Linked DNA regions of Homo sapiens. The protein of the gene in region 1 interacts with the protein of each later gene in a pairwise test. Each region holds a gene or a part of one and is shown on either strand. Other genes may lie near its edges.

Region 1 (3,180 bases):
AAAGAAGACAGAATCTAGTGCCTTACATATGTGGAAAGTCCAAACTTAGCACCAGGAGGAAGGGCAGGCTCTGTAGGTACAGGTAGGGTGGTAGCTGGTGTGGCAGAAGTACATGGAGAGTCTCTTCTGAGTCTTCCCATCTTCTCCGTGTTGTAGGAAGGAAGGTCCTCAGTTGAGAATGAGGAGAGAGGGAAGGAGGTGTTGGAGATTTGAAAGAAGAAAAGATGTGACTGGTCACTTGGGGGTGGAAGAGTGCGTGGACTGGGGAGATTGAGTAGGATTGATGCAGCCCTAGGGCCTCCCTGGAGTCCGCGGCTGTGAATGCAAAGAGAGCGGTCAGCATGGTTGTCTGTGTGGGAATGGACTCAGTCAACAGAACATTGCAATTGCATGGGGTTTGGTGTTGCCAGGTGCCTGCAAAGGTGAGGGAGTCAAATATGTAAAGAACTCATCTTGATTCTGGACCACAGCATATGAGCTAGGAAAGGAGGAAAGACAGGATGTGGAGAAGCCAGTGAGGGGGCAGGAGGAAAAAGGGACTACAAGTCCTGAGTGTAGTGTCAACAAGTTATTGGAATTGGGGAACTGGAGGAAATTAGAAAGCTGGTGGAGCATGAGTTGCTTGAAATTGAAGTCACAGAAGGGGCTTTGTTAATGACAAAGTTTAGGGAATGGCCAACAGAGCAAGTGGCTTGGGTAGGCAGAGCACAAGATCAGGGAGGAAAGGATGTCCAGGAACTGGGAGGCCCGGGTACTGGAAGGATCATCTACGTGGATATGGAAATCACTAGAACGTGTGACAGAGGTAGTACAGGAGAGAGTGACAGGCAGTTGCCCAAGCTGTTGAAAAATGGCATGGGAAAACTGTTCTGGAGGTTCCATATCGATATCTAGGTGACTGAAACAAGCAGGGCTGCTTTGCCCTGAGCTTCAAAGCTGGGGATTTTTTTTTTTTTTTTTTTTTTTTTTTTGAGGCTGGAGTGCCATGGCACAATCTTGGCTCACTGCAGCCTTGACCTCCTGGACTCGAGATCCTCCCACCTCAGCCTCTCAAGGAGCTGAGACCACAGGCACATGCCACCATGCCTGGCTAATTTTTTTTTTTTTTTTTGCAGAGACAGGGTCTTGCCATGTTGCCCAGGCTCCTGGGCTCAAGTGATCCTCCCGCTTGGCCCCCCAAAATGTTGGGATTACAGATGTGAGCCATTGTGCATTTTTAAGGCAGATAAAGGGAAAGTGATCTGGAAGTGGCAGTAAGGAGCAAGAAAGACTTCTCTTTAGGCCAGGGAAGAGGTTGTGTATGGAGAGAAGATAGTCGCACGTTGAGGGGATGCCAGGGAGTTAGTGCCTGAAAGGAAGAGCCAGGCTGAAGCAAGAAAGTGAAGAGGAACCCAGGGGTTGAAGGCAGGGTTGGGGAAGGTGGGAGTTGGTGTCACAGTAAAGGATGGACAGAGCTGCACAGTGACAGAGCCCAGGGTATGAAGATGGCCTCTCAAAATGGTTGAAGTGAACAGGAAGAAAGGGCCCCCTGGAGGGTAGCTCTGCTGGTCTTCAGGGCAATCTGTGGGGGTGGGGCTGTGTTGGGGAGGGGCCAGTGTGGGGGCTGGAGGACCCTGCAGAGCTCTGGGACCCCCTCTTCACTCTGGAGGAAGCTGGGAGAAAAGGGTCTTGCTGGGAGGGCAGGAAGATGATCAGTGTCAAGCTGTTGGCACAAGGTCTGGCGGGCACTCAGTAGACACACAGCCAGAGTGGCAGCCTCTTGGCCTGGGACTGTTAGACTTGTGGATCCCCGGGCCGGGGGTGCTCTGTATTTGGAAGGATGTATAAATGCAAAGGTACAGTTGCCCAAGGCCAGAGATCTGGCTGAATTGAGGCCTGGGAGTGAGTTTCTAACATCCTTGTTGATTGGGGCTGGGGTGGGTAATAATCTCTTACAGTGTAAAGTTTACAAGTATTTTTCCATCTTAGATCCCACGTGATCCTTAGGACAGCCCTTTGCAAAGGAGAACACTGAGGCCCAGAAAGGGCAACTGATTTGCCCAAGGCCACACAGTCAGGAACTTGGCTCTTTGAGCTCTAGGCCTCTTGTCCTTCTAGGCCACTATTTTGCTCCTCTCTGGCCAGATTAGTTCACTCTCGAGGAGGGGCCCAGAAGGAGGCTTGTTAGCTGGGGCCAGACTGTGTTGCTGAGGCTGAATGTTCCAGTCTTCCCTCCTGCAACATATCTTGCTCTCATAGTTCTCATTGTGAAGCTCTGAATCTTTCTTCTCTCTCCTCCCTCCCCCATGCTGCAGTACATGCTGTGGAGAGTAAGTGGCCCTGCCCCCATGGAGGCCAAACCCCTACTTCTGGGGCAGCCTGCCCTACTAGAATGGCGGGGAGGTTGGATGGGGCTGTGATTGGGTCTCCTCTGACCTGGCTGCTGGGTGACTGTAAAAGGTCTGGGATGTATCTTTGAAGTATGGTTCCTTGCAGCAGGAGGGATTGAGGCTAGAGGGCAGGAATAAATTGTTCTGGAACAGTTGGTACAGGGTCCCCATGGGATTTCTTCTGGGGAGCTTTGAGGGTGGAGGCAGGGAAAGTGTGGATGGCATTCTCAGATCCCACCTCACTTTGAGGTTCAGTGATTTGCCATCAGCTCTAGTTAGTGAGAGCCCATAGTCGGTGGGTTTTGTTTCCGGAGATGCAGGCAGGGCCATGGTGGTAGTCAAGGCATAGAGTTCCCTGTGGACGTCAGGGAGGAACCAGGGTCTGTTCTAAAGACTCCTGAGGAGGGCGTGAACTCTCACACAGGCCCAAGGCTTGCCCTTTCTGGCTGTCCTTAAGCAGGACCAGGAGGTGCCAGGCTGGAGAAGGAATGAGGGGCAGAGAAGACAGGTGGTTTGCAGTCCAGGGGGAGGAAGGAGGAGGCCAGTGCTGCTCCTACTAATGACGCCTTCTCCCTTGCCTTCTCCCTTCTCTCCTAGTCCATGACTTGCAGAGCTTTGGCCTTGACAACGTACGTACCAGATGGAAACCATGGAGGGCAGGTGGGGGTGGGAGGCTTGGTTGCTGCCTTCATTTCCTTGTAGGAACATCCTGGGATGGGGTAGTGCATATGGAAAAATACACCACGTTCTGAATGGGGATCCAGCCTGAGGGTTAAGCGAGAGTGACTTTTGAACTGAACTCTGAGCAGGC
Region 2 (3,334 bases), on another chromosome or scaffold:
TGTCATAAAAATGGGCTGTAGCCATTTAAATTATTGTTGAAGTCAGAAACTAAGAGACTTCAGTTTCTATTAAGCCATGTCAACCCCTATTAGGAGACCTTTAGTGGTTCCAGTTCCAGGGCCTTCTTGAAGAAATTGTGATACTTGTTTAAGTATATCTAGAGTTTTCCTTTCCAGCATTGGCTAAGTCACATACTTGAGAAATATGATACATAGAGAAAGTTGCTGACTGGATGAACTTTTCTACATTGAATACTTTAAATCTGGATTCTAGAATAAAATATATTGATGCATATTGGAGTTGTCAACTGTTTATGTCTTGTTCTTTTCAGCTTCAACATTGCTTTATGGCATGTGTGGTCGTTTTTCACTCCATTGTTGTTGTTTACCCAGTTTATGGGGGTTGTCATGTTTATCACACTCCTTGGATGATTTCCGAAGGTAAGATATCTGGAGTGGTTTTTCTAAAAATGAACTCGTTTGAAAAATGTCTTTTATGACAATTTTCAGTGGATGGAGCTGTAACAGACTATTTGTGAATTATTTTCAGTCATGTTTACACCAGAGTTGTCCACACTAGAATTATCCATTCATTGAACTCTGAGATAGACTCCTTTTTGTTTTGAGACAGCTTCTCACTCTGTTGTCCAGGCTGGAGTACGGTGGCATGATCACAGCTCACTGCAGCCTTGACCACTTGGGGGCTCAAGCAATCCTCCCACCTCAGTTTCCCAAGTAGCTGGTATTATAAGCATGTGCTACCATGCTTGGCTAATTTTTAAAAATTTTTTTGTAGAAACAGAGTCTCCTTATGTTGCCCAGGCTGGCGGGGGTTGGGGGCTGAGACTCTTTCTTTTGTAAAAGTTGGTTCTAAGTGACTACTTTTTAGAGAAGGTACCCTGCCTTTCAAAGACCTCATAAAGACAGGATTTGTACCTTCCAATATAGTTGAATTCACACATTAGACCATTTTATGTTGAAATTATATTAATTTGTGTCAGCTTATATTCAGTGACTGTTGGCTGGATCATTCTTAAGAAATGGGAATACAGGAAGAATGAACAATTTTACCTAATTGGGAAAAAAAATTCTGCCATCTTCTAATTATTCTGACTTCCTCATAAAAATGTGTTGGATGACACAATCAGCTTTCGTTTGGTGTTATTTATAGAATTTCTGCCTCCCTACAGATCACCCCATCCTGAGATCTGCTGCCTTACACAGTGGAGGCTGTTTTCTGAGTGTCGGATAACTCTGTTATTAAATAAGTGTATATTGAGAATACTCACTCCAGATGCTTAGGGGCATGGTGAGAAGGACAAAGATAGTGCCTCCTGTCAGGTCACTTACATCAGAACTTGCAGGAAACCTGCTTTATACAGCAGTTGACAGGTGTGGAAACTGAAGCTCATGGAAATAAAAGTTAATACGCTAAATTTTCAAGGAGTTAATGAAAACTGACATTTCTGCTAAAAACAGCATGTTCTCCCTGTGGGATTTTAAAGGAAGGTCAGTGGTAACTGTGTAAAGAAGAAATGGACATACTCTCATTGTTAGCAGTCTGAAAATAGTTGCTAGCACCTCCATGCCCACGCCAATGTCTCCAGCCTCCTTCAGGCACCTTGCTGTGTCTTGGGACCACTGGGAACCCTCACAGGAGGCCCTTCATTCCTGTACACCTGTGGTGCCACAAGCGGCTTTGGGCCCGGAGGAATCCTACACATCTCAGAACACTTCCTCACCTGACCCTGTCACCCATCTCCCCTTCTCGTGTTCTCAGCCCCTTCTTTGACTCTTGAATTTTGAGTTTTTACAGATGTTTGGGAGCTCTTACTCTGACATGAAGTTATAATTGGTAATGGAGACTCAGACAATGTTGTAGATTACAGAGTGAACTATGCTTTTTAGTGTTAAATGCAATAGCTTGAGATACAATGTTTTACTTGGTACATAAATGCTGGTTTTCTTTCAGATTTAAGGACATACACTTTTTTTTTTTTTTTTTTTTAAGAGACAGGGTCTTCTATGTTGCCCAGGCTGTCTTTGAACTCCTGGGATCAAGTGATCCTCCTGCCTCAGCCTTCGAAGTAGTTGGGACTACAGGCCCACGCCACCGTGCCTGGCTGGACATGTAAATTTGAAGTGAATGGTTAAACATCCAGCTAGCTGAAAGCATGGCAGACCCTAACAGAAAAGCTACAGTGTGTTTTTGCAGCTATGAAGTGAATGGTTTCCTGGGGAAAATTGTGACTTTGTATAACTGTTGTTGAAACCAGAATAAATTATATTTCACTTGCATATGCATAAATTATTAAAATTTTCAGAAGTCAGTGATACAGAAGTACTATTTTGCAATGTTAATCTGTTTGAGTCTTTGGAGAAAGTGGTTTCATTGTAGGTACATAGTGCACTGTTAATATTTTAAACAAGTAGTTCACTCTTCCATTTAAGGGATAGCAGTTCCTTGTATAAAATGACTGGATGTGTATAAAGGAATTATGTTGTCATGTGCCTTTAACCAGCTTTAGTAATTACTATAATCTCATATTTATGATAGTTTTGTTAGGTGACAGGACCAAATGAAAATATTTTATGTTTTCTCATCACTTTAGATTTTATCATTATGTACATTACTGGGTTTTTAGCATTTCCTAATGTGAAGTTTTAATCACTTTTAAGTATACATTTTTTTCTGTATCATTTAAATAAAATATTTTTATAACTTTCTTGTGAGTTTTGTTCATGCGAACTTTGGAATAACTTCTGGTTTTTAGCTATTAGCACTTTGAATTAACTGTAGCAATAACAAGGGCTAACTCTGTTCTTCAAAGACCTTATAAAGACAGTATTTGCACTTTCAAATGCCAATATGTCTACATTAAATCTAAGCAGCATAAGCATTGTGACAGAATGTATCTCATGTTGATTGTTTTCTCTGTAAGGTGACTTCTAATAATGACCTGACTTAATCACCACTTGTGTCTGGTTCAGATCATACCCTGCCATTTACTAGCTGCAAGACCTTCAGTAGTACAGGTTTAGTATCCCTAATTTCAAAATCTGAAACTTTTTGATGACTGACGTGACACTCAAAGGAAATGCTCATTGGAGCATTTTGGGTTTTGGAATATAATGCAAATATTCCAAAATCCAAAACACTTCTGGTCCCAAGCATTTCAGAGAAGGGGTAGTCAGACTGTAATCTTTTTTCAGCTGTGAAGTGGGAACGATATCTGTCTTGTAGGGTTGTGCGTAATAGTAATAATGTTTGTAAAACACCAATTACAGTGCCTGACACAGTAGGTGTCCACTCAATAAATGGTAATGGAGAGGG

The links. Proteins that work in one complex are often made in the same cells at the same time.
Region 2: the proteins of ERGIC3 (region 1) and TMEM128 interact in binary tests that used the Homo sapiens proteins (3 or more experiments, as listed by UniProt).

The regions. Positions count from the first base shown.
Region 1 is NC_000020.11:35,552,078-35,555,257, forward strand, and holds part of ERGIC3 (endoplasmic reticulum-Golgi intermediate compartment protein 3), read left to right. Parts: intron 1-2,294; coding exon of another isoform or gene 2,295-2,309; intron 2,310-2,966; coding exon 2,967-2,998; intron 2,999-3,180. UniProt on the Homo sapiens protein: Possible role in transport between endoplasmic reticulum and Golgi. Positively regulates trafficking of the secretory proteins SERPINA1/alpha1-antitrypsin and HP/haptoglobin.
Region 2 is NC_000004.12:4,234,934-4,238,267, reverse strand, and holds the end of TMEM128 (transmembrane protein 128), read left to right. Parts: intron 1-332; coding exon 333-432; 3' UTR 433-441; intron 442-1,190; exon of another isoform or gene 1,191-2,011; 3' UTR 2,012-2,726; downstream 2,727-3,334.